Homo sapiens: one gene and its partners. The protein of the gene in region 7 purifies or fractionates together with the protein of the main gene of each other region. This does not show direct contact. Each region holds a gene or a part of one and is shown on either strand. Other genes may lie near its edges.

Region 1 (4,321 bases), on a different chromosome or scaffold from region 7:
TTCTTACGTTAGTTTTTCAAAATAAATAAGAACAATTGGGTAAGTAAATCACCTGGTGATTCGCCTGGGCCTTCAGCAGCGTGAGGCTGGCATTGGGTCATTTTGTTCCTTGCGGTGACAGTGCAGAGCAGGGCCAGGCAGGGCTGGCAGTCGGTGCTCAAGCTCCAGTCTCTGCTCTGCAGCTCCTCATCAGTGTGGCCTTGACGAGGCCATTTCCCACACATGAGTGCAGTGGACCCAACCCAAGCCCAACCAGACAGCCTTAGGCTGTGAGCGATGGACAGAACCAGCGCTGACCCTTAGCAAAGGGAGCCTGGGTCTCTTTCTAAAGGAGGATCCTGTAAGTCCCCGCTGCTTCACTTACCCTGGAAACAGACACACACACAGGACGCACAGGAACATAGACAAGCACACATACAAACAGGTACACATACACATACACATGCACCCACATACAGATACACACATATATACATGCACACATGTGCATATACACACCTTACACGTACATACACATACATATAGACACATGCACACACATATATACATGCACATACACGCACACACACCTCACACATACATATAGACATGCATATTTATACATGCACACATATGCACACATACACACCTCACACGTACACATATGCACATACATACACATGCACACACATATACATGCACACATATGCACACACATACATACCTCACATGTACATGCATACACACAACCATACACATGCACACACATACACACCTCACACGTACATACATACACACACATACATATAGACACATGCACACACGTATATATATGCACACATATGCACACACATACATACCTCACATGTACATACATACACACACACACACCTTACACACATACACATGAACACACATATACACACGCATATACACACGCATATACACACGCATATACACACGCATATACACACACATACACACGCACACACACGCGCACACACACGCGCACACACACGCGCGCACACACACGCACACACACATATACACACGCATACACACACACACGCATATACACACGCATATACACACACATCATATACACACACATATACACACGCATATACACACACATCATATACACACACATATACACACATACACACACACATACACACACATACACACACATACACACACATATACACACACATACACACGCATATACACGCATATACACACGCATACACACACACATATACACACATATACACGCATATACACACACATATACACACATATACACGCATATACACACACACATACACACACATATACACACGCATATACACACACATACACACATATACACACGCATATACACACATATACACACACACATACACACGCATATACACACGCATATACACACACACATATACACACACATATACACACGCATATACACGCATATACACACGCATATACACACACATATACACACGCATATACACACGCATATACACACACATACACGCATATACACACGCATACACACACGCATATACACACGCATATACACACGCATATACACACGCATACACACACGCATACACACACGCACATACACACACATACACACGCATATACACACGCATATACACACGCATATACACACACATATACACACACATATACACACGCATACACACACATACACACACATACACACACATATACACACGCATATACACACGCATATACACACGCATATACACACATATACACACACATACACACGCATATACACACGCATATACACACACATATACACACACATACACACACACATACACACATATACACACGCATATACACACGCATATACACACACATATACACACACATACACACACACACATACACACACATATACACACACACATATACACACACACATATACACACACATATACACACACACCCACGTGGATAAATGTTTACCCAGCACATTTCCTGTCAAAGCCTGTTCCTTCCCTTGGTTCTCCACATTGCAGCTGTTGCCTTTCTTTCCTTTAATTTTTTTGTCTAAGAAATCAGGTTTTGCTTTGTTTGTTCCATTTATTTTGCATTACAAAAATTTTGAGAGCTTATTTTATGCACTAATATTTTTCATAATTTATGAGAAAACACATGATCCTCGCTTTAAATAGTCCAAACCTATGAACTAGCCAGATCTGGGCATGTTGCCTGGCGAAGTGAGAACAACACAGGCTTTGGAGTTAGACACAGGCTCGAATTCCTTCTTCGTCCTTATTTCCTTATTTGCCTGAGGGTTTGGGCCGATAACCTCTGTGAATTTCAATTTCCTTCTCTGATAAATGGGATGGCAATAACCACCTCATGAAGGTTAAGTGAAGGATTCGATGAGAAACGTCAATGTGTGTATGAAAGCTCCTTGTCTGAGCAGATGCTCAATCAAGGCTGACCCACACCTGAATAATCTCCAGGTCTTCTTAGGAGAAGATCTGGTCTGCACACAACCTTTTCAGAAGTGCATTTTACACACACAGTTGTGTATACACAATACACATATGTACAGAGAGACCAGGAAATCTGAGCAAGCATTTGATCCTGCAGAGCAATGTCCTTGTTGTATCGTATCTCTGGCTTGTAGCTTTTGGCTCCATGCTACCCTCTCCACCCTGACCTGTGCAGACTCCTTTTGCCCTTAGTCTAAGTAAGCGGTTCTCAACTTTCAGGTGCTTTGGACTCATGTGAAGGCGCGGTTCAAACACAGCCTGCGGGGCCCCGTCCCAAGAGTTTCTGAGTCACTGGGTCTGGATGCTCCTGAGAACATGCATTTCTAGCACAGTCCCACGTGATGCTGATGCTGAGGTCTGAGGGCCACACTCTGAGAACCGCTGCTCTGCGTGCTCTGACCCGACTCTGGACTCCTTAGAGCTGTACCCCGGAGTTCCAGGGGTGCACTAACCGTCCCTGTGGAAAATGGGCTTTTCTTTCCTTAAATGTTGCATTCAATAGGCAGACCTTCAGCTTTCTCATTTACAGAGGACCTAATGAGTTGTTTTTCATAAATAGAGTATGAAGCATGGTTTTAGCTGCCTTATACCTTGAAGGCATCTTAAAGCTTGGAAATTATTTCGAATGGCTTGCTAACCCTGAAAGGGTTTAAAAAAACAAAAACCAATTTGGAAAGGTTAATACTGGGGGGAAAGTGGTGGAGAAACTTTGTCTCTCTGTCCCTTTCTTCCTTCATCCCTTTTTTCCTTTCACTACCAGACTCAGTCCTGTCCCTCCCACTCACTAGCTCATGCCTAACCGCCCAGGACCTCACTATTTTCCTCTGTGAGAGCAGGGGATTGAGTTCGAGAATCTTTGTTCTGATTTCTTTCTTTTTCTACTTCTGAAAGCCAGAGGTCCCTCTACGAAAAGCACTGGGAGAATGAAATGAGTTCTTGATTTTCACCAAATGAAAGGCGCCTGGACTCTGGGTGGGTGTAAGCTAAAATAGAGGGTGCTGGCCGGACTGGGTGGCTCACACCTGTAATCCCAGCACTTTGGGGGGCCGAGGCAGGTGGATCACCTGAGGTCAGGAGTTTGAGACCAGCCTGGCCAACATAGTGAAACCCTGTCTCTACTAAAAATACAAAAATTAGCCAGGCGTGGTGGCACACGCCTGTAATCCCAGCTACCCAGAAGGCTGAGGCAGGAGAATTGCTTGAGCCTGGGAGGTGGAGGTTGCAGTGAGCCAAGATCATGCTACTGCACTCCATCCTGGGTGAAAGAGTGAGACTCTGTCTCAAAAAAATAAATAAATTAAAAAAATTAGAGGGTGCTGAGATGCAACCCTGGAGCTACCCTCAGGCCTCCCTCTGTGGGTTCCACATGGCTCTCTCCCCACTGCCCCACCACCCCATTTGTTTATTTTGCTTCCTCACTCAAACCCTGCACCCCAGCCCAGGGAACCCCTCCCTGCTCCTTTCTATTTCCTTCCCGGGGCAGCATTCTGCATTTACCCTCAAGCACTTAGAACTTTGCAGAATAATTGCAAATATTACTGAGAACTCAGACTACTTTCTGAGTTCAAGCCCATCTTGGGGCTCTGCTCACACGGACTGGCCCTTTAGTGTAAATCAACACTTGAGTTTACCTGTCTATCTCCACCCCTTAAAGACACTTTGGGTGTTATATTTCTTTGGTGTCTCCATTTCTGCTAAATATGCCAAGCCTTTCACTATCCCTCTGGGTCATTTGGCTCTCAGCAGTGACTCAGGATGCTTGGAAAAGCCTGACATGGCCAATAGTGCCTTATACTAAA
Region 2 (4,321 bases), on a different chromosome or scaffold from region 7:
TGGATATTTTAGCACAACTAAATGAAAGCCTAACAAAATTTTCAGATTATACCTCCTCATTAAAATATCTACTAAAGAAGATAGAGAGCATATATGTGAAGTCAGAACTGGAATTACTGGCTGATGTTAAGGATATCTATCACAGACATAAGAATTTAAAATTCCCTAAACCTTTTTTATTCAAATTAAAAGAATATGGTTACCATCTGTCTCCACAATATTGTGGCCAAAACAAAATTATCAAGCGATTTCAAGTAGATGTAATTCTAGATCCTGAAGCAGCACATCGTAAACTTATAGTCTCAGAAGATAGAAAAACTGTGCGATATGGAAATACAACACAAAACTTACCTCATAACCCAAGAAGATTTTATCTGCTCCCAGCTGTTCTGGGTTCTAAGGGATAAAATTGTGGCAGGCAGTACCGGGAAGTAGAAGTTAAAGACATGCCTGAATGGATTCTTGGTGTCTGTAGTGACTCTCCTCCCACAAGGAGGAAGAGTCAACCAATTTTAGTACAGGATGGATTATGGAGAATTTGGTAATCTAGTCGGAATAATTATATTGTATTGGGCCATAAGGAAATTATTCTGCTGCCAAAAGTAACACCTAGTAAGATTGGCATTTTTTTAGACTGTGAAATGAATGAGGTTTCCTTTTATAATTTGAATGATAGATCTCTTCTCTGTACTTTTAATGATGATTTTACAGGAGAACTTTGGCCTTATTTTTATACTGGAACTGACTCAAAACCTCTTAAAATTTCTACAGTAACAGATTCTGTATTTTCTTTCACCTAGTAGACATAACTGAGCCAGTTAATCTAGTTTTGGCCATTCTGTATTTTGTCCAGTTTTTCTCATAAAAAAACAATATTTTTTATCTCAATTTCAGCAACTTCCAAAAAATGTGATTATGGGACCTACTTTATAATAAATTATGGGGTCAATGACAAAGTACTTTAGAAATTCTATGGTAAAATACTTGAAAAATATATTACTGAAGGAACGTATTATGTAAGAAAATCTATTACTTTTGTAATTGCCAATAAAAGCCCAATTTTTTTCTCAAAAAAAAAAAAAGACATACTTTAATTTAAAAGATAATTTTCTGATAGTTAGTATTATTTTTTTCCTAAGCCTTCTATCTTCACCTATTCAGTGCTTTTATAACACTACCTTAGGTGTAAAGTTAAAAAATGTTCAGGCTAAAAAATTGTACATTATCTTACCTTATTTTTCCTGCTGCCTTACTAATGTTACAGAAAGATCATCTTTGTACTAATCTATTTGTATACTTGAGAAATTGGCTGAGATTTCTGTAGTTTATAAGTTGCTATTCGTAATTTTACTACACCTCAGAATTATGTTTGAAATTATGTGATATCTAAGAGTGTTGGACTGGATGTTAGATTATTTGAGTTCTAGTTCTAACATTTACTAGCTGTGTAACTATGGACAATTACTTTGCCTGTCTGAACTCTATAGTCCAGACGAGTCTCTCTGGGCCTCCTTTTCATTTGTGAAATAAGGGGTTTGGATTATATGATCTTTATGGTTTTCTTTTTTGACTCTGAAATTTATGTGATTTTAAATTTCTGTAAGATTATTGTCAGGTAGCACTGACAAATTCAGTCTTTACATATGGTCATTGTATGAGCTGAGATGCTGAAACTGAAAGAAGATGTAAGCTTCTGTGTCTTTTTTTTTTTTTGCAAAGGAATTAGATCTTTTTTTACAGTAGTTCCTCCTTATCCACAGTTTTTTGCCTCCACAGTTTTGGTTACCTGCAGCAAACTGTGGTTTGAAAATAGGTGAGTATAGTACAATAAGAAATTCTGAGACAGAAAGAGACTACATTCACATTACTCTTATTATAGTATATTATTTTAATTGTTCTATTTTATTATTAGTTGTTAATCTCTTACTGTGCCTAATTTATAAATTAAACTTTTTCATAGGTATGTATGTATAGGAAGAAACATGGTATATGTAACATTTAGTCCTATCCAATGTTTCAGGCATCCACTGGGGAGCTTGAAACATATCCCCTGTGGATAAGGGGGTGCTGCTGAAAAATGAATGCAGATGCCTTCATTTCTCCGGTTATTATATTATCTTCTCTGTATATAGGTCCCTCCTGAGATCTGCCATCTCCTGGGAGGTGACTCAGCTTTCTTCACTATTGAAACAGTAATTTTATTAACCCCTTTGATTGAACATTGTTTAAACTCGAATTCTTCCTCTTCTCTTTTTGCCTCTCCCCATTCCCCTTCTTTTCTTTTCCCCCTTTTTACTCCTTCCTCCTCCTCTTCATTCTCTTGTTTTTCATTTTTCATTTTCCCTAATTATAAAAATTTGCCTCCTAAGTTTGAGATGCCCAAGGTAGAGGTTTTTTGGAGCCCAGCACCACCTTGTACAGCCCCAGCATTGCATAGACTCCTGTGGTTCCTCAGGTGGGACTTTGGCACATAATACTCGTGGCCAGAAGTGAATTTCTCTGCATATTGTGCAAATGTGGATATAATTCTTAATTTGGACAAAAATTTGAACTACTTATATTGTGGCAGTGGGAGGGCATCATGTAAAACAAAAATCATTACATATTTTGATAGAAATCCATCAGTTATTTTAGCAGGTTGTTGGTGGTGGAAATAGTAGGAATTCTGGTTAAGTGGAGTTTCCACATAATTAAAGCGTAACATTAACAGTTGGAATACAACTTGTAATCATTTCAAGTGAAAATTTCTTAAATATATTTACAGTTCCCTGCTGTAGTAAACATAAGGAATAGAGTGTAACTTCTCTGCAGTGGTTATGTTTAAGAAAATCTGTTACTCTGCTGTAGTGTGGTGCTTGAGATATTCTAAACTCTTTGCCACTGCATTAAACGTGATTCTAGTGGTGTTTCTTCTGTCATCTCCCTCTTGGCTGCCTTCATTCTGCTGCACTATCCCTTTGCTATCACTAGTTTGCTTCCCATTGTACCTATTATCCCTTCTAATTTTTACCAGTGTCTGATGGTCTCTGACTGTTTTTAGTTTTTATACTACCCCTCTCATTCTCATGTGGACTTGGGTGCCCACAGGATTTAGGTTTTAGAGTCATCCTATAAGAAGTTGTGTTTCTTTTATTTAGTGAATCATCTTTCTTTTACCCCTTTGACACTTTTGTTGTTGTTACTTTATGTTCTTGGTGATGTTTTAATTTTCTTTTAGCTTGAGATGGGAAAACTTTTTCTGTAAAGGGCCAGATAGTAAATATTTAGGCTTTTTGGCTCTATAGTCTCTGTTACAACTCAGCTATTGCAGTGTGTAAGTAGCAGTAGATAATATGTAAATGAATGGGTCTGTCTGTGTTCCAATAAATCTTTATTTACAAAAACAAGTATCAGGTATGATTTGGCCAGGGGGCTATTGCTTGCTGACCCTTGTTTAGATGGATTTGTGCTTTTCTGGGGTGATTGAGGTTGCCAGATATCTGAACTCAGTTAAAGCTGAAGTATTTTTCTGTCTGCTATGATTATAACACTTAATATTTTCATGTTGTTTTTGTCGTGGATATAATAATCCCATGTTCTTGTTATAGAAAATATGTATAATGTAGTTACTGCCTTATAGGGCTGACAACTTTTACTTTTTAAAGAGAGTTTAAATTATTTAATTTTTATCATTACTTTTTGGCTTGTTTTAGACATCTGAGAAGGAAATAATAAGTAAAGAACAAGGTAATGTAAAGGCAGCAGGAGCCTCTGATGTTGTTCTTTACAAAATTGACGTCCCTGCCAATAGATATGATCTCCTGTGTCTGGAAGGATTGGTTCGAGGACTTCAGGTCTTCAAAGAAAGGTAAGGAAATATGTTCCTTAAAGACTTTGCTAAGTTGGGTTTTCTTTTCTTTCCTTGTCATTATCAGCAGCCATGTTTAAATTTCTAGGAAAAAGCTTGTAGAGGAACGTAGCTTTAGCTCTCAATAGAGGGTTGATTTGAGGAATTAGATTCATGCAGATTGTAGCCATTTGAAAATTTCCATGAAAATTTTAGTCATAGCCATTCATCTTTGAGAACATATTTTAAAACTGGTGTTTAATGCTTTTATGGCGTCTTAAAAAATTATTTAGCAGGTGTGTGTGATTCCCCTCCGTGATCTAATTGGAATGAGTAGTTCACTGGATGTGTTAAAAGTTGAGAGGAAATGGAGAGCTAGCAATAAATACCCTTACATTATGAGTTCTAAGGAAGCTCAGGAGTGAAGCCTCCTAACTGGAAAAACCAAAGATCTTATGACGGCTCTGTGATCTTGAGCAAGTTAGTTGGCCTCTC
Region 3 (4,321 bases), on a different chromosome or scaffold from region 7:
TTAAGTAGAGGAGATACTCTCTTACATATTTAAGGTTATTTTTATGCATAATAGAATTGCTTTCTTCTGACTAACCTACATGGCAAACTTTCCCCAACCCTCTTTTTCTGGAAATGAATACATTCCTTTATTCTTTTCTCAAAGAACTGTTCTTTATGAAGTGATATAAATAGCCTACAAATAAACATTAATAGCAAAAGTTCATATAATTTTTTTTTTTTCCAATTTGAGATGGAGTCTCACTCTGTCGCCTAGGCTGGAGTGCAGTGGCACAATCTCGGCTCACTGCAACCTCTGCCTCCCGGGTTCAGGCGAATCTCCTGCCTCAGCCTCCCGAGTAGCTGGGATTACAGGAATGTGCCACCACGCCCGGCTAATGTTTGTATTTTTAGAAGAGATGGGGTTTCACCATGTTGGGTAGGCTGGTCGCGAACTCCTGACCTCAAGTGATCTGCCCACCTTGGCCTCCCAAATTGCTGGGATTATAGGTGTAAGCCACTCTGCCCAGCCAAAAAGTTAATAGAAATCTTAATCAAAATATAAATATACATTCATAACTGCCATCTACAATATTCTGTTTTGGTCCTATATCTTAATTTGCCTTTATCCACTTTATTATTCTAATTGTCAACTGATTTTAATAAAACTGATACATCTTTACAGTTGATGCACATATTAGCACATTCACAACATAAAAACAAAAATTTAGAGGTAAAGTTTGGGAGTATTTAGGTTAAGTTACACATGTTCAAAAGTTAACACAGACCTATCTGAAAAGTAACTAAGTTACAAAACAATGCACGTCTATATATCAGAATAATCCAAGACTTTACCATCAAGCAAGACTAACAATCTTCTATTATCAGTCATTTAGACTTATTTGTAAAAGAGAATCCAACAGGAAAAGTATCTTTAACTTGGTCGTGGGGGACTTCTAGTAAGAGACACATTATTATACCACAGAAAAACTGTTTAATATAGCTCTCTAACTCCTTTAAGAACTGCTTTAGGAATTTTTATTTTGGCTTTAAGTGGAATCACTTACATCTAGACATCCTTTGAAGCAAAACCACTTAGAAACCAGTATTTTGTGCTAAGGAAGGGAAGAAATACTACAAAATGTTGCAAAACAGAACAAAAAGCTTAAAGGTTTAAGAAATTTAAAGGCACAGATATTTCACATCAATTCAGATTTTATAGTATGCAAACATGAAATAAACCACCGTATTACAACAAATATGTGCTAGCGATTGGTTAGATTTCACACTTCTCTCCAAATGTAACACTGTCACATTGCATTTCCTCTCTAGATGTATACTGATAGCACTGGGAAAGATGTTCAGATGCAGGGACAATCCCAATGTTTACCAAACTTCTGAAAGATGAGTATACGCTACAAACTTAGTTCCAAATATGAAATGAAAAGGAAAGTCCAGCTATTTAGGGGGGTACTCAAAGTGTCAACTGATCATAACCAGGCTTTTAAAATGTCAAGAACCATTTATATGCTATTACCTACTTTTTATTAATTATAATGATGTTTCTTATGTATGTCCAAAATATCAGTGAAATCTCTAATCTCTGGCCTTCAGATTATCTGTCCCCTCAAAGGACTGAAAGCAAGCACTTTGATTAATAGTATATGGCAAATGATGCATGAGAAACAATGAACTCCCCTCAGAGGTGCCCCACCTGTCAATGCTCTTAAACATGAAGCTATCAGGATCTCTTAGATTCAAAGAGATATCAGAATTCAAGGGGACTTTCTTCAGACATAAATACACACACATACAGTATCATTTCTGTCTGTTTCTGTGCCTGGTTCTTCCATTACAAAACTCAAAAATATGACATTTCTTGTGTATACAAAGTTAAAAATGTACTTCTTAAAAAATGCAAACACAATGGCGAGCTGCTATAATGTGTACATTCTGTTCTACACAAAGAAAATACACTCTGAGTACACACAACAATTCACCAAGGTTAAAATAACCCAACCCCTCAAATTAATACACTGGTCCTTTTGATCTCAGAAGGCGCCTTTGCCTTTTTTCCTCCACCCCCACTTTTTTTTTGGTAGTTTACTGAAAGCTTGTTTTTGTAGATAATCTAATAGAAAAATCTTCACCTGCAAATATAAGGTAGAATTTTTTCACAGCTATAGGCTGTAGCATTGATTTCTCCAGATATATCAATGGAGAACAAATATGTATGACACTGTTAATTCCAGATTCTAAGAAAACTGTCCCAAGAGCCTGTTGCCACAGCCATGCCATCATCAGTTACACCTAAGCAGCTCACACGGTTGTCATGACCAGCAAGGACACCTGAAAAAAAAATTCAGTAAAAAATTGGCAATTGTAGGGTTTTAGAATTAAACAAGTATATGCAGAGATTTAAAAGGGTGCTTATAAACTATCAGTCCAGTTTTCTTGAAAGTTCATCAGTTAAAAAATAATAATAATTTAAAAGAAAACAACAAATTTCTCTGAGTAAGAAGACAAGTTAGGAGTAAGCTGGATGTATTTATAAATTTGGATTATTTGAATTTTGACATGCATCAATTTGTGGTTTTAATTTTTGAAAAATCATCTTATAATTCAACTTATATCTAGGAAAACATATGCAGACAATTATTCCACATCTCTAATAAGTTCTCGATATTCCAAATTTTGCTACTGAGCTATGTATGCTATTCTCAACAAAAACAAGATTTTCAATGAAGTTCACTGAAGGAGCCCTTCACCACAGGAACGACAAAAACGTAAGAACAAAGCTGCCTCACATCACTGCTTCCAAGAATACCAACATAATTCATTTACTTTCTTATGCTAATCACCAAACTCTGGAATGTTATTGGTTATAACTTTCTGAAACCATGAAACTCATCTAGTTTTCATTTCTTTCACACATTAAACTCATTTGATGTATTTCCAGTATTTTGGAAGAAAACAAGAAATACAGTAAGATTAATAAGAAAAATTAGAATACATCAAATGCTCAAAATTTTTAAATACAGTGTTTGAATTTGCATTCTCTCTCTCTATTCTTAAGCATATCATTTTCGATCAATCAGGAACAGAAGTTCATCTTGTAACTCTTAATATTCTCTATAGTATCTCCAGTATGGCCATGTTTGGCAATGGGAAAATTTACCATTATGAGTTGAAATAACAAAAAAAATGAACATTGTGGCTAAATACTTTAAGTCACACTGGAGAGGGAAATGAATTAGCAATTCACAAGTCAGGATCCAATTTTAAGTTCAAAGTTCCAGTTGAGCCAACCTGAAACCAGCTTGTAGGCAAAGCAAAACTAAACCTCAAGCATATAAGTGTGGACAACAAGCACATTTTTATTTTGTTATGGATACTAATTGTTTCAATCCAGGCAAAACACCAAATATCTTTAAAAGGTAATTGGCCTTAAGCAACGGAATACTTCCAGGAATCTACTTGCAAAGTGTAAAACTGCAAACCATGCAGTCTCTTGAAAGAGGTTGTAGAAAATTATTCCTGGAAAAAACTTACACTGCCTCTGCTCCCTCAGGAACCCCAACAACTGCATAGCGGGGGTTAAAAGGGTAAGGACATAAATCCACAAGGACAGTGAGATGAGAGCAGGCAATGGCAACGAACTTTCGTAAGCTGGATGGTGGCAACTGTGTTAATGAACCCCAAAATACTGAGTTCAAAATGAATAGTAAGCCAAGTAACAAAATTACACTGCAGATTCTCCAAAAGTGTCCCTACTAGGTAGAACCAGGTATCTCTGGAACAGGTAGGGGCAAAGGCAGAGTAAAATAAGATTGTGCTGGAAAGTGTTCATCAATCAGTAAGAGCCCCCAGGTGTCCCCTTCCTCCACTCTGCAGTCAGGTGACAGATCATCCTGCGCTGTGGCGTAAGGCCAGAGACTCACTCAGAGGAAAGGGTAAAACAGGGTCTCCTGACTGGAAGAAAACAGGCACAGATGCGATTGATAAAACTGTGCTGAAATGGGGAATAAAGTTTACTAGCTAAATGTTGTGGTCCCTCAGGTTTTCTCTTGAAATCAGCCCTCAAACTGGCAGCCAGTTTATACACTTCATGGAGGAAAGTGGAAGATGGAAAAAGGAAGAAAGGCAGAAAGGCAGACACAGCAAAGCTTCCTCAGTGAACGGCCAGCCTAGAGTAAATGGAGGCCGAGTCAGCACACCAGCCACGTGCCCAGAGCTTCAAATGGTTTTAGTGCCTCGCTCTTAAGTATGAATAAGAATTAACACTTTTAAGGAAATATTCTAAAAATAAAGACAGGAAACCCCAAAAATGAAGAAAAAAAAAA
Region 4 (4,048 bases), on a different chromosome or scaffold from region 7:
GGGAGGGGAGGGGAGGGGCAGGGAGAGAAGCCCAGTGCGGGAGGGGAGGGGCAGCAGTAGCTACAAGGCGGGGTGGGGAGGGCAGGGGGAGAGTGCCAGGTGTCCCTCATACCCCTGTCCACTCCTAGGCCTTTGGAAATGCCAAGACCCTCCGGAACGATAACTCCAGCAGGTTCGGGAAGTACATGGATGTGCAGTTTGACTTCAAGGTACCATGGATGTGTGTGTCGTGAGGATTCCCATTCAGTAGGCTCTACACGTGTGAAGCACCTACTGGGTACCAGGGACTATTCCAGGTGCTGCAATTCCAGCAGTCAAACAAAGCAAACAAAAATCCTGCCTTCCAGGGTGATAAACAATAAACAGGGAAATTGAGGCCGTGGCAGAAAATAAAATGCAGTAAGGAGTGGGGGGCAGGTGCGGTCGTATTAGGGTAGGCCTCACTGAGAAAGTGGCATTTTAATAAAGGCTTGACAGCTGGGTAGGGTGGCACATGTCTGTTGTCCCAGCTCCTCTGGAGGCTGAGGCAGGAGGATCACTTGAGGCCAGGAGTCCAAGGTTACCCTAAGCTATGATCATGCCACTGTACTCCAGCTTGGGCTACGGAGTGAGACCCTGTCTCTAAAAAAAATAGAAAATAATGGCTTGATGGAGATAGGAGCAGGCTGTGCAGGTGCCTGTCCAGGCAGCGGGAACGGAACAGCCAGGACAAAGGCCTGAGATACGAGGGTGCTGGAAGTGTTCCAGGACAGCACGGAGGCCACAGCGGCCAGAGAAGAGAGCAGGGGCCCGCGAACAGAGAGAGGCCAAACGGTGCAGGCCCTTTTGGGTTGTTGCAAGAACTTTTTTTTTTTTTTTTTAACTCTGAGTAGAAGGGGAGTCATCGGGCTGGGTGAGGTGGCTCATGCCTGTAATCTGAGCACTTTGGGAGGTTGGGGCAGGTGGATCACGTGAGGTCGGGAGTTCAAGACCAGCCTGGCCAACATGGTGAAACCCTGCCTCTACTGAAAATACAAAAATTAGCCAGGCACGGTGGTGTGTGCCTGTTGTCCCAGCTACTCAGGAGGCTGAGGCAGGAGAATTGCTTGAACCCGGGAGTTCGAGGGTGCAGTGAACTGTGATTGCACTACTGCACTCCAGCCTGGGTGAAAGCAAGACCCTGTCTCCAAAAATAAAAAATAAAAAAATGACTTTAGCTGCTTCACTGGGAGATTGGGAGTAGACGAATAGATGGGAGGGGAACCAGGCTAAGCAGGGAAAACGGTTAGGGGGCTGATGTCATCATGTAGGTGACAGGTGACATTGGCTCAGACCAGTGTGGTGCAGTGGAAGTGGCGAGCAGTGATTGGATTCTGGATGTTTTAAAGGTTAAGGCAGCAGGATGAGCTGCCTGATTGGATGTAGGGTTTGGAGAAACACAGGCTTCCAGGAGGACTGCCAAGTCCTTGGCTTGAACAACGAGAAGGATGTAGTCACCACTGACCAAGGAGGGCAGACACTAACAGGAGCTTGTTTGAAGAGGGAGAAGGTCCGGTGTTGAGCTTCAGGCCTGTTGAATTTGCGATACCTGTCAGGCATCCAGGTGGAGCAGCCAGGTCGTTGGAGTTGAATCTCCCCATTTCCTAGATGAAGTAACTGAGTCCAGCGTGGGTGGCGTGCCTGAGCCGACGCAGCTAGTGGCAGGGCTGGAATTGGCATCCAGGTCTGGCTGCCAAAGCCCAGGAGTGCAGGGGAGAAGAGGGGCAGGTGGGCTCTTTTCCCAGTCCCCGTGACCCGGCCTCATGCCCTGCCCTGCCCACAGGGTGCCCCCGTGGGTGGCCACATCCTCAGTTACCTCCTGGAAAAGTCACGAGTGGTGCACCAGAATCATGGGGAGCGGAACTTCCACATCTTCTACCAGCTGCTGGAGGGGGGCGAGGAGGAGACTCTTCGCAGGCTGGGCTTGGAACGGAACCCCCAGAGCTACCTGTACCTGGTGAAGGTGAGTGGCTGGCAGGGAGGGCAGGTGCCACCCAGGGATCTGGTGCCAGGGCTGGCAACCCAGCTGTGCCCTTCCTCCAGGGCCAGTGTGCCAAAGTCTCCTCCATCAACGACAAGAGTGACTGGAAGGTCGTCAGGAAGGCTCTGACAGTCATTGATTTCACCGAGGATGAAGTGGAGGTGAGGCCTCTTCCGGGACCCTCGCTTTCCTCCTGTCACACCCCCAAAATCTCCTTTTTTTTTTGTTTTTTATTTTTTGAGACGGAGTTTCATTCTTGTTGCCCAGGCTGGAGTGCAGTGGTGCAATCTCAGCTCACTGCAACCTCCGCCTCCTGGGTTCAAGCAATTCTCCTGCCTCAGCCTCCCGAGTAGCTGGGATTACAGGCGCCCGCCACCACGCCCAGCTAATTTTTTGTAGTTTTAGTAGAGACGGAGTTTCACCATGTTGGCCAGCCTGGTCTCGAACTCCCGACCTCAGGTGATCCGCCTGCCTCAGCCTCTCAAAGTGCTGGGATTACAGGCGTGGGCCAGTAATCCCTTTTTTTTTTTTTTTTTTTTTTTTGAGATGGAGTCTCGCTCTTTCGCCCAGGCTGGAGTGCAGTGGTGCGATCTCAGTTCACTGCAACCTCTGCCTCCAGGTTAAAGTGATTCTCATGCCTCAGCCTCCTGAGTAGTTGGGATTACAGACACCTGCCACCACACCTGGCTAATTTTTGTATTTTTAATAATGATGGGGTTTTGCCATGTTGGCTGGGCTGGTCTCGAACTCCTGACCTCAGATGATCCTCCCGCCTCAGCCTCCCAAAGTGCTGGGATTACAGGCGTCAGCCACCGTGCCCATCCCACCCGCAGAATCACCTTCCACCTTTAACACCCATTCCCACTTCCAGCCCCTTCTCTCCGACACTTCACCACCCACCCCTGCATGGCCATCTGCTAGTTGCCCTCTTGGGGCTCTCTGGCCCCTCTCACCCCCTCCTGCCCCCGGCCTGCTCCCCCAGGACCTGCTGAGCATCGTGGCCAGCGTCCTTCATTTGGGCAACATCCACTTTGCTGCCAACGAGGAGAGCAATGCCCAGGTCACCACCGAGAACCAGCTCAAGTATCTGACCAGGGTGAGTGGGGCGGGCAGAGGGCGACGGGAGGACGGCGGGGGCGGGGGCTGGGGGTGCACCCTCACCGTGTCCTCGCCTGCCCTTGGCAGCTCCTCAGCGTGGAAGGCTCGACGCTGCGAGAAGCCCTGACACACAGGAAGATCATCGCCAAGGGGGAGGAGGTGAGGCCGGGCCCTTGCCCTCGGGTGTGGAGGGGCAGCTGTTCCAAGGCAGCCCCTACTCCCATCACTCCCCTTCGCCTGGTTCCCTCAGCAATGCTGGAGGGATGGAAGGAAGGCTGCTCAGAGAAGCAGAGTGAGAGCCGAGCGCCGTGGCTCACGCCTGTAACCCCAGCACTTGGGGAGGCTGAGGTGGGCAGGTCACCTGAGGTCAGGAGTTCGAGACCATCTTGGCCAACATGGTGAAACCCCATCTACTAAGAATACAAAAATTAGCCGGGCATGGTGGCGGGCGCCTGTAATCCCAGCTACTCGGGAGGCTGAGGCAGGAGAATCGCTTGAACCCGGGAGGTGGAGGTTGCAGTGAGCCGAGATCACGGCAACAGAGCTAGACTCTGTCTCAAAAAAAAGAAGCAGCACAGTGAGCTGGCCAGGGTCACATAGGAAGAGAGTAACAGTCCGGCTAGAACCAGACTCCCACCTCGGGAAGGAGGCCTCCTGTCCCTCTACCACCTTCCCTCTGGGGTGGCCACCTGTCCTCCCTGAGGTCCCACTACCAGCACCCCTCCCCATACTGCAGGCTTGCTGGAGCTGGGAGTGCAGAGTGGTGGCGGCTTCCTGGTCTGCCTGAGCCTGGGAGCAGGTGGGATGCACAGGCTCTGTGGCATTCATCTCCTTGTCTCACGCTGCGTCCACAGCTCCTGAGCCCGCTGAACCTGGAGCAGGCCGCGTACGCACGAGACGCCCTCGCCAAGGCTGTGTACAGCCGCACTTTTACCTGGCTCGTCGGGAAGA
Region 5 (4,321 bases), about 140 Mb from region 7:
AAGAGAGCGTGGGAAAGGCTGCCAGGTGGAGAGTGGGCTGCAGAGCCTTTGTGTGCAGGCAGCTCACAGATTGTTTACAAACAAATCAGTTGGTTTCCCTGTTCCTGTTTTCATTTGAACAAGTCTCAGGGACTCATCCTATTTGAACAAGCATTTTCTAGGCTTCAGCTTCCTAGTGGGCCCTTGCCTCTCCTTACAGGACTCACCTCAAACACAGCTATCCCAAAAGGGTGGCTCAGGAAGTCAGTGGAGGAGATCAGCGTCTTTCTGTTGCCTCCACTGAAGTCAATGCTGGACAGTTGGTGTAGCTTGGAGTCTACCCAGTACAAGCGCTGGCTCAGCAGATCTTGGGAAGGAAGCAGGATCAGGTCATGAACCTGGGACCCCAGTCTGGAGCTCTGTTCCTTTGTACCTCTCCCTGCCCACATTTCTAGGCCTCACACTGAGGCCAGCCTACGGCAACCATTAGGAAACAAAGTCACTGGCACCATGAGAGGACCCAGAAACAAGACTCATGGAGTTCCAGACAGTGATCAGGACAAGGCACTAGAATAGGCCCCCAACCCAGGAAAGGCAGGGCTCACCCAGGGTGATTCCGTTGGGCCATTCAATATTGTCTGACACCAGTGTTTGCCGGTCCACACCGTTGAGCCCAGATTTCTCAATCTTGGCCTGGTCCCCCCAGTCAGACCAATACATGAACCTAAAAGACAAAATAACCCAATTTGCCTTCTTGCTGGGGACATGACCGGGGTGGTCTGAGTCACAAGAGCTCAATAACCCATTGACTAGTTGTGGTTTATGTTTAGTAGGGACTGAGAAGACCTCTAAAGTTCTTTTGAACCATCAAATCTTAGATTTAGCAGGCACTTTAGCCTTCACCTCATTTGAGAACTTGAGGAAAACTATTCTCCGAGATTGCACCCAGACTCAGCTGAATAGCCTGTGACCCCATCTCTCCCACTTCTGGCAGTGCTAACTAACTAGAGCCCTAGGGTGTCAGTGTGGGGAAGGCCCTAGTAAGCCCTCTCTTTTCTGGTTTCAGAGGAGAAAGTGGATGAGCTTCCTAACTCAGGTAACCCTCCCTGCTTTTGTCTCCTCAGGCCTACTAGGGCCAGTAGCAGCCCACTGTTACTAATCCAAGGTAGTAAATTAGACCTAACCCACTCCTTTGTAAATAGTCCCTTTATTAAACCCTCCTCTGATTATCTTGAGTATGCAGTGGGTTTCCTCCTGGGACCCTGACGATCCGCAGTGGATTGGGGTTGGGCTGGGTGTAACTCTATGATGTGAGGGACAGGATGTGGCAGGTGCAACACAAGGTCTGCATGAGAACAGACAGAGAACAGGGATGAAGTGAGGGTAAGAGGAGAGGCTCCGTATCTGTCAGAGTGCCTAGTTCTGTGCTGGAAGCACCTGACCCATGCTTAGTGAATGGCAGCTATCAGTCACTTCCCAAGGCCTCACATAACCTCCCATGTGGTACTCCCCTCACCAGCTGCCCTTGCTCGAAGAAGAGGGTTTTCTTATCCCTGTTTAACAAGGAAATAGCAGTAGGAAGCAGCTGTTGATTCTGTTAAACTTAACATGATATAACGCTAAAAAAACCATCTCAAGATATCCACACTGAGGGAGAGAGGGAGTCCTGTTCTGTTCAGAATCCCTAACTCCCAAAACTGAGGGGTGGCCAGAGCAGGGCAACCTAGGTGGTGAGGGCCCAGAGACCATAGGCAACAGGGGTAGGGATGGAGGCAGGCAGTCTGAAGCAGAACAGACCAGTGATCTTGGTCCTCAAATCTTGCTGGCTCTCTCACAGGGCAGGGAATAGACATGTTTTATGTAACTCCAGAGGCCAATGGAGGAAGTTGCAGGGAGATAGATTTGGCATTATGAGGGGAAAAGACCCACTTTCTAATGAGCAGAGCTGCCCCACGGTGAAACAGGCCCTATGGGAGGTAATGAGCTACCTGTCTTTGGAAGTATGTGAGCAGCTGTCAGATGCTCACCTACAGCAGCCTGAAGAAAGGCTTCCTCCCCCAGGAGCTTCTATCAGGCCATCTCTAGAGCCCTACTCTGCTCTGAGACACTCCAATTCTACGATATAACGAGTGGGTGGGAGAGTCCAGGGAGAACTTTGGTGACCAATGCCCAGAGAACCTTGGTTGGGGATTAACAAGACTTTCTTCCCCATGGCCTGTGTCTGAGTGGCCCAGAGCTTTCTAGAACCCTCAAGATAGCCCTTGTGACAGACACAAGAGGACTGAGCACCTATGGTGGGAGAATGGGAAGTTCAGTTGGGACACTCACCCTCGCAGGGGGTCAACAGCGATGGCCCGGGGTTCACTGAGGTTACGGCTGAAGAGAGTGCGTCGGCGGCCACCATCAACTGTGGCCACTGAGATGGTCTTATTGCCCGAGTCAGTCCAGTAGATGTGCTTGTGGACCCAGTCCACTGCCAGGCCCTCTGGAGAGTGCAACTGCTCGTCAATGAGGACCTCCTGCTCTTTCGGGTCACTGGCCTTGTCCATGTAGGCGCTTAAGAGAAAACAGAGATGACCATGGGGCAGATGTTCCACCCATGGGCCCATCTGGAGCTACCTGTGCACCCTTCCCCTCTCTTCCATCTGGGCCATGGCAATAGATTTTTAGAGGAACGTGGATAATTTCCACTCTACACATTCCCTGGGGTACCAGGGTAGGGGTACAGACTTACATGGGCCACGGTCTCTGGCTTTCTAAGGTGGGGCTGCTCCACAGCTCTGCCCATTAGGGTGAGCCAGATATAATACAATGTGATTATGGAAAGCATTAGAGGCTATGGCAGCAGAGGCATGGAGACTGCCTCATCCGAGAGGGCGGGAGAAGGCTTTATAGTTGAGTCCTGAAGGACGAGTTCACCAGGAGCATGAAGTCACCAGGACAGAAAGCCATTAGGGAACAAGAAAGGCTTGTGCAAATGGCCAGAGGTGAGTCTGCTCTGGAACAGTGAGATACTTAGGGGAGCTGCTTATGTGGGTGTCAGACTGCAAGCAGGTGTAGGCAGGAACCCCATCTTGATGGGCTTTGAGTACCACGCCAAGGAATTAGGATTTCTCCCCAGTGATAACTAGACAGGCCAGAGGATATAGTCCAATAAGCATGTTAGTTCACTGTGGCATCTATGGAGTGGATGGGTTGGAAGGAGAGGGAATGAAGCAGGGAAACTGGTTAGGAGGACGTTACAGCATCTGGGTGGGAGATTAAGAGAGTCTGAAGAATGACCGTGCCAGTGAGAATGGAAAGAAGGGCTAAGAATACAGTAGACACTCAGGAGGCAACATTAGCAAAATAGCAAATGCTGTTTCCCCAGAGGTTTTCTTCTTCTTGCCCTCTCTCTGGGTGATTAGTTCCTTAGTGTCCACTGCCATCAATAACTAAGTCTCCAATCCCAACAGCTCTCTTACGATCCAGACTGCAAAGCTAACTAGCTCCCCTTGGATGTCCCATGGACACCTTGAACTCAATATGTCCAAAACTGTTCATCCCCATTCCCTTCCCCTCGGCCAACCAGACGGCCCAAACCCTGAGCCCTGATCCTCCTCTACTGCTTCACACATCAGAGAACAGCACCACCATTCATGAAACCTCCCAAGCCAAAAACCTGAAACTCCCAAAATTCACTATGAAGGAGTAAATTTCTTCCATCAGCCCCATATCTAGTCTGTCACCAAATCCTGCCTCTTTCAGTTACATCTCTTGGACAGGCATTGTTCTAGTTATGTTTTTGGGTGTGTGTGAACGGAGTGTCTGTATGTTGCAGGGAGGCAGGAATCTAGTTGTCAGTGAGTAGCACTTGCTATATTTGCTTCCATCCACTCTTCCACCCATCTGTCCCATCATTCTTTCATCAGTGACTCAGTGTCTACCCAGCGCCTGGTCATCGGCATTCCTGCCAAGTGGATCTCAGGACAAAGAAAGGACATGACTGCCTGAAGAGGGCCCAGACATGCAGTGGGGCAGGTGCTGGCATCTGAGAAAGTCCTAGGAGAGAACCTCCTCCAGTGTGTGAAGAGCTTCCCAAGCACCAGGTCCACTGACTGTGGCGTCAAAGACAGTGAAAAGCTGGCCTTGGGGTGATGCCATCCAGGAAGGCATGCCAGATCAGATGCCCAGGTGGGTTCGGAGGCCTCCTCTGTACTTTCTCATGATCATCACAAATGGATGTCACTGTGTTGTGAGTGGGATCCTCTGGGCAGGGACCAGGTCTAAGTCCCCAGGTTCCAACACACAGGGATGTGAGCTGCTTGGAAAGTCCTCCCCAAAGCCAGGATTTCTTCCTTTC
Region 6 (4,321 bases), on a different chromosome or scaffold from region 7:
TTTAACACTTCAAATGGGGGCATTTTCCTCATTTCATAGGTAAAGAATCTGAGGTTCAGAGAGATTAAAGATTTGCCCAAGGTTAAATACCTACAAACTAGCAAAACTAATATTTTATAATACCAGTCTATCGGGCTCCAAAAGCATGTTATTCACATTTACACACTGCCTCCTACCAACGACCAAAGAAAATTAATTACCCAAATTCTAGTTCCTCTCCTCATCTATACTAATCAGAAAAAAAGCTAGAGGAAGAAGGAACCAGATGAGTTACCCAGAGCTCCTGAACAGAACATCTCATTTTGTTTCTGGTTACAAAACTACAAAAACAACAATCCAAAGAGAAATAAGACTTACGGCTGTTTGAATGACTGTGTGTGGGCCGCTGTGGTCTTCAGGTGAGCAACATTAATTTCCTCTGAGAGCTCTTCTACAGTCTCAATGTCCACGTGCTCCTCATCATCCTCAATGTATTCTACACAGTTATTCTGAAATACATCATTATAAAAGTAAATAATGTATTGAGTGGCAAGCACACCTAAACTTTTCAAATGTTTGTTCCCCTTATAAAACCAACTAATGCCAGACATTCATGTTATATCATGAGTACTGATAATCCTAAGATTGTTAGTCATAATAAGGAATTAAGACAGAAAGATAACATATCATTAGAATTAACAATCAAGAACTATAAGTCATATATATATGTGAGCCGTGGTGGCTCACACCTATAATCCAGCACTTTGGGAGGCCCAGGCAGGTGGATCGTTTTGAGCTCAGGAGTGCAAAACCAGCCTGGGCAACATGGCAAAACCCTGTCTCTACAAAAAATACAAAAATTAGCCAGACATGGTGGTGCTCGCCTATAATTACAGCTACTCGGAAACCTGAGGTGGGAGGATTGCTTGAGGCCAGGAGTTCGAGGCTGCAGTGACCCAAGACTGCACCACTGCACACCAGCCTGGGAGACAAGAGTAAGACTGTCTCAAAACAAATTAAATAAAAAATAAATAAACAGACATAATTAAACTTAACAGCATCCTCAAAGGACTGCACTGATGCTTCAGTGTTATTTCTAGTGGACAAAATTCAGGCACAGATATATTAAGGTTTCATAAATCTTAAGATTAAATAACAGTAAAATAAAATTTGGTGAAAGAAATATAGAAAGGAGAAAAATTCAAGTGCCACTTTAAGGGGGCTTCATGACCAACATCCTATCAGATGCCCACAAATCAACACACATTAGCATACACAGGCAGGTATAGAAATAGGATACAGCCTAGTCCTGCAACTCTCTCAAAACCACAAAATGAGAGCTTGTAAGGAATTTCAGGTTTCAAAAAAGCCCACGATTGCTGTATTTCCTTATTATACCAAAAAAGGAGTCAAAGTGTTTACTGAGCACCTGTCACAGAAACTTGCTAAATATTTTATGTAACACTAGAGTTATGTGGATATATAGGATAAGCAGATCTTTTTAAGTCCACCTTTACAAATAGTATTTGCTTGCAACATTTCTGTGCCCCCTCAAAAAAAAAAAAAAAGTGTTTACTATGCCAGAAACATAGTAAATGAGCCCACCTCCCGGGATTCAAACGATTCTCCTGCTTCAGCCTCCCGAGTAGTTGGGACTCTAGGACTGTGCCACCACACCTGGCTAATTTGTGTATTGTTAGTAGAGATGGGGTTTCACCATGTTGGCCAGGCTGGTCTCAAACTCCTGACCTCAGGTGATCCGCCTGCCTCAGCCTCCCAAAGTGTTGGAATTACAGGCGAGAGCTACAGCGCCTGGCATAACTGCAGTATTTCTAAATAATATTCCAATAACTTCCACAAGGAAGATTTAAATTAAAGAAGCTATTTACAACTTCCCTCACAGTATTCCAATGCTAATCATAAAGGTAACGTAGGTGTGAGATGTGCAAATAAAAACAGTGTAGACTTTAGATTTTAGAGATCACTTAATATGACCTTTAAAAAAAAAGTCAGTATAACTTGTTTGCTTGTCAAATTCCCTATTAGTACATTCAAGCAATGCCTCCTTGTATGATTAAGATACTTCAGGCCGGAGGCAGTTGCTCATGCCTGTAATCCCAGCACTTTTGGGAGGCCAACGTGGGTGGATCACCTGAGGTCAGGAGTTCAAGACCAGCCTGGCCAATATGGTGAAACCCTGTCTTTACTAAAAAAATACAAAAATTAGCTGGGCATGGTGGTGCCCACCTGTAATCCCAAGCTACTCGGGAGGCTGAGGCAGAAGAATCGCTTGAACCGAGAAGGCAGAGGATGCAGTGAGCCGAGATGGCACCACTGCACTCCAGCCTGGGCGACAAAGCGAGACTCTGTTAAAAAAAAAAAAAAAAAAAAAAAAACTTTAAAGGTTCTATTATGTAAGTTCCACTAATAGTAATAGTTTTCACTGGTTTTAAAGTTGAACTGTTTTTTGGTCTCATGTTAACTTGGGCTGACTTACAGTGTGAGACTGCAAAAAACACAAAAAAATCAGCAATATAACTCCTAAAGTCAATGAATTTACATCCATTCTTGAAAAAGATTAGGCTATGGAGAGAAGGTATAAGTCAAATGAATACAGAATCATCCAATTTTAGAGCAAGATCCTCCTTTATAAATGAGACAATGGAGGTACTCAAATAACCAATATAAGAACATTAAGACCAGCCTGGCCAAGATGGTGAAACCCCATCTCTACGTAAATACAAAAATTAGCTGGGGCGGTGGCAGGCTCCTGTAATCTCAGCTACTCAGGAGGCTGAAGCAGGAGAATTGCTTGAGCCCCAGAGGTGGAGGTTGCAGTGAGCTGAGTTCGCACCACTGCACTCCAGCCTGGGCGACAGAGTAAGACTCCATCGCTAAAATAAAATATTTCAACATTTTAGATTTTTAAAACAGTAATCTTTTTGTCTTATTTTATGTGCATAAAGCAGTTAAGCAATAACAGAAAAGGACCAGATAACACAGAGGCAGAATGAATCTCAAGGAAGTGAGATTGTAAAACAAGCAGTTGTATGACAATCAGTGCAGACGGCTGTCATCTGCTCCTGAAAAGAAGGACACAGTTTAGATTTTAGGGCACTCCACAGGCAGCTGGTTATGATCTCCCCATGTTTTACATCAGACCTTATGTCAGGGGTCAGCAAACCACAGCCCACTAACAACTTCTTTTTTTTTTTTAACCCGAGACAGAGTTTTGTTCTTGTCGCCCAGGCTGGAGTGCAATGGCGCGATCTGGGCTCACTGCAACCTCAGCCTCCCGGGTTCAAGCGATTCTCCTGCCTCAGCGTTCTGAGTACTGGGATTACAGGCACCCATCACCACACCTGGCTAATTTTTTGTATTTTTAGTAGACACGGGGTTTTGTCATGTTGGCCAGACTAGTCTCAAACTCCTGACGTCAGGTGATCCACCCACCTCGGCCTCCCAAAGTGCTGGGATTATGGGTGTGAGCCACCGCACCTGGACTTTTTTACTAAAGTTTTAATGGAATACAGCTGCTTTTATACTACAACAGCAGTCAATTAGTCGCAACAGAGAGCCATCTAGCTCTCTGCAAAGTCTAAAACTATTTACTATCTGGCCTTTTACAGAAAACGTTTGTACAACTCCTGCACTGTATCAATACCTGACAGTTACTTATTTAAGTAAATACAACAACCCTAAATAGGAATCCTATAAAAAAAACTTCAGGAAAATAATAAAAATAGGCCATAAAGGTCATATTACAAAGGACGAAGACCAAAGTCTAGAATATAAATTCCAGAGACTAAATATTTAATTTTTGGATATAAAAGCAACTCAAGGCAAAATGGTACTAGAATATGATGGTATTTTCCAGTTTTTCTCCAAAAACAAAAACATCTCTCTATATGCAAGTGAATAAGTTCTCCTCTAGTTCTAAGGTCACCCATTCCCAGTTTCTGATTAACATCTACCAGAGAAGCTACAACCACCTCACATAGAAAACGTCATAGAAATTGACTGAGGTCAAATGGGAGTAGTGGTTTCGGGATTTTAAAAATCTAACTCGGTAGGGACTCTCAAGCACCTATCCCCCAAATATTTAAGCCAGCCTTCCCATAAAACCAGACAAGTCTCAAAGAATAAAAGCTCAATAAATGATGCTTGATTGACACAGCCTAAAGAACTACTAAGCCATTTAAGTCATAATCTTAAACCTAGGCATCCAATTAAATGTATTATGCCTTAGTGCTCTTCTGAAAAAGCTTCTGTCTTTAATAAATCATTTAAATCCTTTAGGTTTCAGTCACAACAAAAATGGGCTCACCACCTTTTCTACATC
Region 7 (5,012 bases):
CTCCCCCGCCCACTGAAATTGTTTCAGGGAAGTTGTCAGATGATAATAATTCAAAGTAAATTATGAATAATACTAAATTTAACTATCCTAAAATATGTATTCAGTGTATTTGTCATTCCATGTAAATGACAGATTGGTTGAAATTATAGTAATATTAATATCAACACGTAAAGTATTTTAGGAGGAGATGAGATATTGAAGCCAATTGGGCCATCGCACAATTTAAATCACACCATATAGATAAATACACATACTACTATCTCTGAAAATATGGGGGTTTGGGGGAGCAAAGGGGAATTCTTATTTATCACACTGAAATTCAAACATACAATTTAGGATTTTAGACCACTATTCTCCTTTCTCTGACTGTAATGGAATCCATCAATCTCTGATCTATAAAGTCTTCTGGGACCTGAAATAACGTTTCTGCACTCTAAATCTCCAGGATTAAAAAACATGTCTCCCAAACAACACAGCCAGTATTTACTTGAACATGTTTCAGTAGAGTTTTAATTTATTCACTTTAATCATCTTGGAATTTCTGGGCTGTGGCCTAATTTCATATAGTACACAATTGTTAGACCCTAAATCTAAAAAATCTGCTTGGTCATAATATATTCAAAACCTTGGTCATACTATATTTCAAAAAGGTGAAATTAGGTGGTACGATTGAGAAACTGTTATTTTAAACTTTGTCCTGTAAATCTGACCCAATTCTTAGTAGCCTGCAGTGACCCCCTGAGCCAGACTGTTAAAACAAGGAGGCAATTAACGTTCCTACACAATTGGAAATGTTATTGTAGACAATATATTGCATTAGAAAGGTTCTATGTAGTACCCAATATATTAAAAAAAGAAAACAAATAGAAAGCTGAAATTACAAATTATTCCTGCTGGCTATAATTCTTTCTTAGTAATGAATAGTGTTTTTTTTGAAGAAAGTTCACTCTTAACAGAGCAGAAGTAATGCTAAAATGTTATGCTGTTGAATAAAGCAGATTGTGATAGTATTCAAACTATCTTCTCAATTTGGTATTCAGTATTCAATGTGGAAAATATAAACAGAAGCAAATATTGAAATATATGTGAGTATTTTTCATGATCAAAGCTACTCTGTTAAGTAAAAATTTTTTAGATATGGTAGATTAATAGAACTGATGGACATCTCGAACTAGTTTAGTTTCAGAGAGTATTTGGGAAACAAGGAATAAATTAGGAGTCTGATATCCACTGAAAATTCATGTAGTTTTTCTCCATTGGCTTTTGCATTACATGTGCTTTTATGAAAATTATGAGGCTGGCCTAAGCATTGCTTTAAATACAAAGTTGTGCTTTATCTTTTAGGAAATAATCAGATTTATATCATTTTCACCATAACATATATAGTGCCGATGTTCAATTCACCAGTAGAAACTGATACCACATTTAAACACACATTGATGAAAAATAAAATAAAAGTGAAACAAGTCAGCAATAATCAATTATGTAAATAAGATGTTTAAATCACTATTGTTTAATTATCACATATACTTTGATGTACTCTATTTTAATAATATTTCAAATTCAACTTTTTAATAACTTAAACTGTTTATTAAACTTGCCATTGATTCTTGATTTTAAAGATTAGAAATAAAACAAATCTCCCTTATATGACAAATGGTATCTATGTAAAACTGGAGCAAACAGTATGTAGGTATGAAACGTTAGAAACATTCCCATAAATTTAGTAAGAAAAGACAGAAATATTTACACAAAGAAACAGAAAAAGATGTCTTTTACAATAGGTAATATTGACATTGTTCTGGAACTGTTTGTAAATACAAAAAGGTTTCATTTTAAAATACTAATTATAATATTTATATGTACAAGGAAATAATTGTTTTCTTCATTTAAAAAGTGGCTACATATAAAGTTTACAAGCCAAAGAACAAGCAATAACATTAGAAAATATAACTGAAAATAATTCAACCTTTCAAAAGGTATTAAACATATTTGAATATTTTTTAAATTACCAAAGTGTATAACTATAAGAATATATCTGCTTTTATTTTCTAGATTGGAAGACTGAAACAGAGATTTGTATTATTTGCTAATATTCTTCAGTTCCTAGAGGCTATGTAATGGTCACTCAATCAAAATTTCTTTACTAAGTGAAAAGATTTTAGAAATTATGAATAATATGTAATTCATTCAGTTTAAAAATGTTTACCAAATATCTATCACATAACTGGTTACCTATCAAAAACTAGGAAAGCAAACCTCCTCCAAGAATAAGCTTTTTAATCTATCAAGAAGCAGTGATATAATTAAATTTTATTATGAATCCAGAAATTGTCTTACTGAGGTCAGAAAAAAACTCCTACATTCATATTCACTACTCCAAAAGACTGCTCTTCAAGAATATATGTTATATACAACTACAGGAAAAAAATCTCTATTGAACAACTTAACTGTTACAAATATTGTATATTCAATTGGGTTTCAAATTTATATAATATTTTTATTCTGATAATACAAGTAATACTTGTCTACAAGAATTCTAAGGTCATGACAATATCAGTTGTAAATGATAAATGAATTTTTATTTAGGAAGAGTTAAAATCATATTTGAAATAAATCTAATCATTATGATTTGATGGCTTTTATTGACTATGTATATTCACATCCTTCTTAATGCTTTCACATAATACATTTTGGTTATACTCCTAAGCAAAAAAGTAAATTACATTTTATGATAATTACAAGGGAAATGATTATTCCAGATCATAGTTTTTCAGAAATGTTTATTAAAACATTTTATTCTATTTTATATTAAATATAATTATGATGAATATTTAGATATACCATTCAAATAAGGTTCTTACATTTTTTAAACTCAACAATGTCAAAAGCCACTCAATTGTCAAGTTACAGAATACTTAAGCACATTTTCTAAATCAAATTTTTATTACTCCTGTGAAAAGCATCATTAGCAAATGTTTCATAATACAGTTTTCAGAAAAGAGTCTCTTTTAATCTTACCTTCTGCTACACAAATAGCCCATAACATAAGGCAAATAATCTTTGCTAGAAGTCTCATTTTTTGGATCTTTTAAGAGGACATTTACCAGCTAACTCTGTTCACAACGTCCAGTTCTCCTCTTCCAAGAATTGTGATTAGTGCAGGAAAGAACTTGCTGCAAAAGGAAGTTGAAACTAGATGCTCCGCCTATCAGAAACTTTTGCAAAGTAAATAAAAAATCAACCACAAGCCACAAGCCCAGAAATGCCAGAAGTTAAACCCAATTCTCACTGCACTCCCACTAAATGTTAATGCTGTGACCGGCTCTTGGACTTTTTCTTATTAAGCTAGGGAAATTCTCCGTTGGAAAATGTTCATGTTCTTGGTATGTGCAAATCAGCAGCTGGTGATATCCTCTGGATTTCATAAACCCTTCAATTATTCAAACTCTATTCGGGTCTATTGTGTATAAACCTCAGAACAGGAAATAAGAGAAACTTTAAAAGAAATCACATACAAAACTTTGGTTTAGGCAATGTTTTCACAATCAGCACCCAGACAATGTGTACAAACTTTGCCAAGAATGCAGTGCTTGATGAATTTGGGGGTCTGCTTTTCTAGCAATTTATGAAATTAGTTTTCTAAATACTTTTTGTATATGTGTATGAAGCAACTGGCTCACTCTCATTTGACGTAAATAGGTTTAATAATCCAAAAATCAACAAATTGAAATGCTGATTTTTAAAACTTTGTATTGTAGTGTAATATGTATAAGGAAAACATAAATCATATGCTGGATATTGAGAAGGTAAAGATACCTGTGAAACCACCACCAAGGTCAAAACACTGAACATTATTACATCCCAGAAAACCCCAGTACTCCTTTTCAGTCAATACGCCTCTCAACCCTCTCCCACACCCCCCACACACAGAGACCACGATTCTGATCTTCAAGAACATGGAATATATTTGTCTGGCTTTTGTACTTTGTATAATGAAAAAGAAGCAGTTTATTCTTATGTTTAGAGTTTTTCACCAAAAATTGTGTTTGGACCATTCAAACACATTGTTAGATGTAGTTACAGATAGTTCATTCTTATTGCGATTTAATACTCCACTTTTTGAATAGTTCACATTTTATTTATCTGTGTGCCTGTTAGTGAGCATTTGAGCAGATTTTAGTTTGGAGCTGGTATGAATAGTGCTGCTATGGGCCTTATATTATGAGGTTTTTGGTAAACACAATCCACATTTCTGGTAAGTGCATACTTGGTAGTGAAACACTGGGACATAATTTATGTTTAGGTGTAATGGATAAAATTAGACAATTTTCCAAATGGATTATAACACTTGACATCACTTGACATTTCTATCAGCAGTGTCCAAGTTGCTCCATACCCTCAGAGATACTTGGTAATTTTAATCCTTGTAATTTTAGCTTTTCTGGTAACACAAAGCAATAATTCTCCGTGGTTATAATATGAATTTTCCTGATGACTAATTGAAATGTGAGAGATCCCTGATTCCCCTTGAAGGACATGCAACAGGTGTGCGGCTTGCCAGTTAGGTCGCCCTGCAGCTCAAACCCCTTACGGGGAGGGGGAGCACACAGATGCACCGGTGCGGGAACCGGAGTGAGCGCTTTCGGGCTCTGGCCTCACAGCAGCATCTAGGGGTGGGTGTCTGCGATTTCCGAAGCCCAAGTGGGCGTATGTTACAGTGTGCTCCTTTAGCTTTGCCATCTGCAAATGGTTTATGTGTTAATCAGCTCAACAAACCCTCTTCCTTATCTCATGGGTAGTGGGACAGTGAAATAGCCCTCTATATCCCCAGCTGTTGCCCAGTGTCCCAAAAGAATCGGATCACACGGGGGCTCGAGGGATGAGGGCAACTTTTTATTGAGTGGTGGAGGTGGCTGTCAGCAAGATGGAGTGGGAAGGTGACCTTCGCCCAGTGTCAGGCCTCCCAGTGGCCAGACTCTTCTCCACCCGTCCCTGGCCAAACTCCCCTC

Evidence for each region.
Region 1: the proteins of CFH (region 7) and UCN3 purify together in Homo sapiens (affinity purification with mass spectrometry, with the first as the bait; one large-scale study listed by BioGRID). This does not show direct contact.
Region 2: the proteins of CFH (region 7) and FARSB purify together in Homo sapiens (affinity purification with mass spectrometry, with the first as the bait; one large-scale study listed by BioGRID). This does not show direct contact.
Region 3: the proteins of CFH (region 7) and GNB4 purify together in Homo sapiens (affinity purification with mass spectrometry, with the first as the bait; one large-scale study listed by BioGRID). This does not show direct contact.
Region 4: the proteins of CFH (region 7) and MYO1C purify together in Homo sapiens (affinity purification with mass spectrometry, with the first as the bait; one large-scale study listed by BioGRID). This does not show direct contact.
Region 5: the proteins of CFH (region 7) and LRP8 purify together in Homo sapiens (affinity purification with mass spectrometry, with the first as the bait; one large-scale study listed by BioGRID). This does not show direct contact.
Region 6: the proteins of CFH (region 7) and MGA purify together in Homo sapiens (affinity purification with mass spectrometry, with the first as the bait; one large-scale study listed by BioGRID). This does not show direct contact.

What each region holds. Positions count from the first base shown.
Region 1 is NC_000010.11:5,367,505-5,371,825, reverse strand, and holds part of UCN3 (urocortin-3 preproprotein), read right to left. Parts: intron 1-4,321. UniProt on the Homo sapiens protein: Suppresses food intake, delays gastric emptying and decreases heat-induced edema. Might represent an endogenous ligand for maintaining homeostasis after stress.
Region 2 is NC_000002.12:222,642,377-222,646,697, reverse strand, and holds part of FARSB (phenylalanine--tRNA ligase beta subunit), read left to right. Parts: intron 1-351; exon of another isoform or gene 352-1,076; intron 1,077-1,776; exon of another isoform or gene 1,777-1,813; intron 1,814-3,692; coding exon 3,693-3,847; intron 3,848-4,321.
Region 3 is NC_000003.12:179,398,993-179,403,313, forward strand, and holds part of GNB4 (guanine nucleotide-binding protein subunit beta-4), read right to left. Parts: intron 2,328-4,321; coding exon 2,221-2,327; 3' UTR 1-2,220. UniProt on the Homo sapiens protein: Guanine nucleotide-binding proteins (G proteins) are involved as a modulator or transducer in various transmembrane signaling systems.
Region 4 is NC_000017.11:1,478,639-1,482,686, reverse strand, and holds part of MYO1C (unconventional myosin-Ic), read left to right. Parts: intron 1-128; coding exon 129-209; intron 210-1,801; coding exon 1,802-1,981; intron 1,982-2,061; coding exon 2,062-2,160; intron 2,161-2,981; coding exon 2,982-3,095; intron 3,096-3,184; coding exon 3,185-3,256; intron 3,257-3,951; coding exon 3,952-4,048.
Region 5 is NC_000001.11:53,261,862-53,266,182, forward strand, and holds part of LRP8 (low-density lipoprotein receptor-related protein 8 isoform 1 precursor), read right to left. Parts: intron 4,153-4,321; exon of another isoform or gene 3,891-4,152; intron 2,536-3,890; coding exon 2,308-2,535; intron 704-2,307; coding exon 585-703; intron 347-584; coding exon 207-346; intron 1-206. UniProt on the Homo sapiens protein: Cell surface receptor for Reelin (RELN) and apolipoprotein E (apoE)-containing ligands. LRP8 participates in transmitting the extracellular Reelin signal to intracellular signaling processes, by binding to DAB1 on its cytoplasmic tail.
Region 6 is NC_000015.10:41,750,604-41,754,924, reverse strand, and holds part of MGA (MAX gene-associated protein), read right to left. Parts: coding exon 4,310-4,321; coding exon of another isoform or gene 4,307-4,309; intron 489-4,306; coding exon 358-488; intron 1-357. UniProt on the Homo sapiens protein: Functions as a dual-specificity transcription factor, regulating the expression of both MAX-network and T-box family target genes. Functions as a repressor or an activator.
Region 7 is NC_000001.11:196,650,185-196,655,196, reverse strand, and holds the start of CFH (complement factor H isoform a precursor), read right to left. Parts: upstream 3,155-5,012; 5' UTR 3,080-3,154; coding exon 3,022-3,079; intron 1-3,021. UniProt on the Homo sapiens protein: Glycoprotein that plays an essential role in maintaining a well-balanced immune response by modulating complement activation.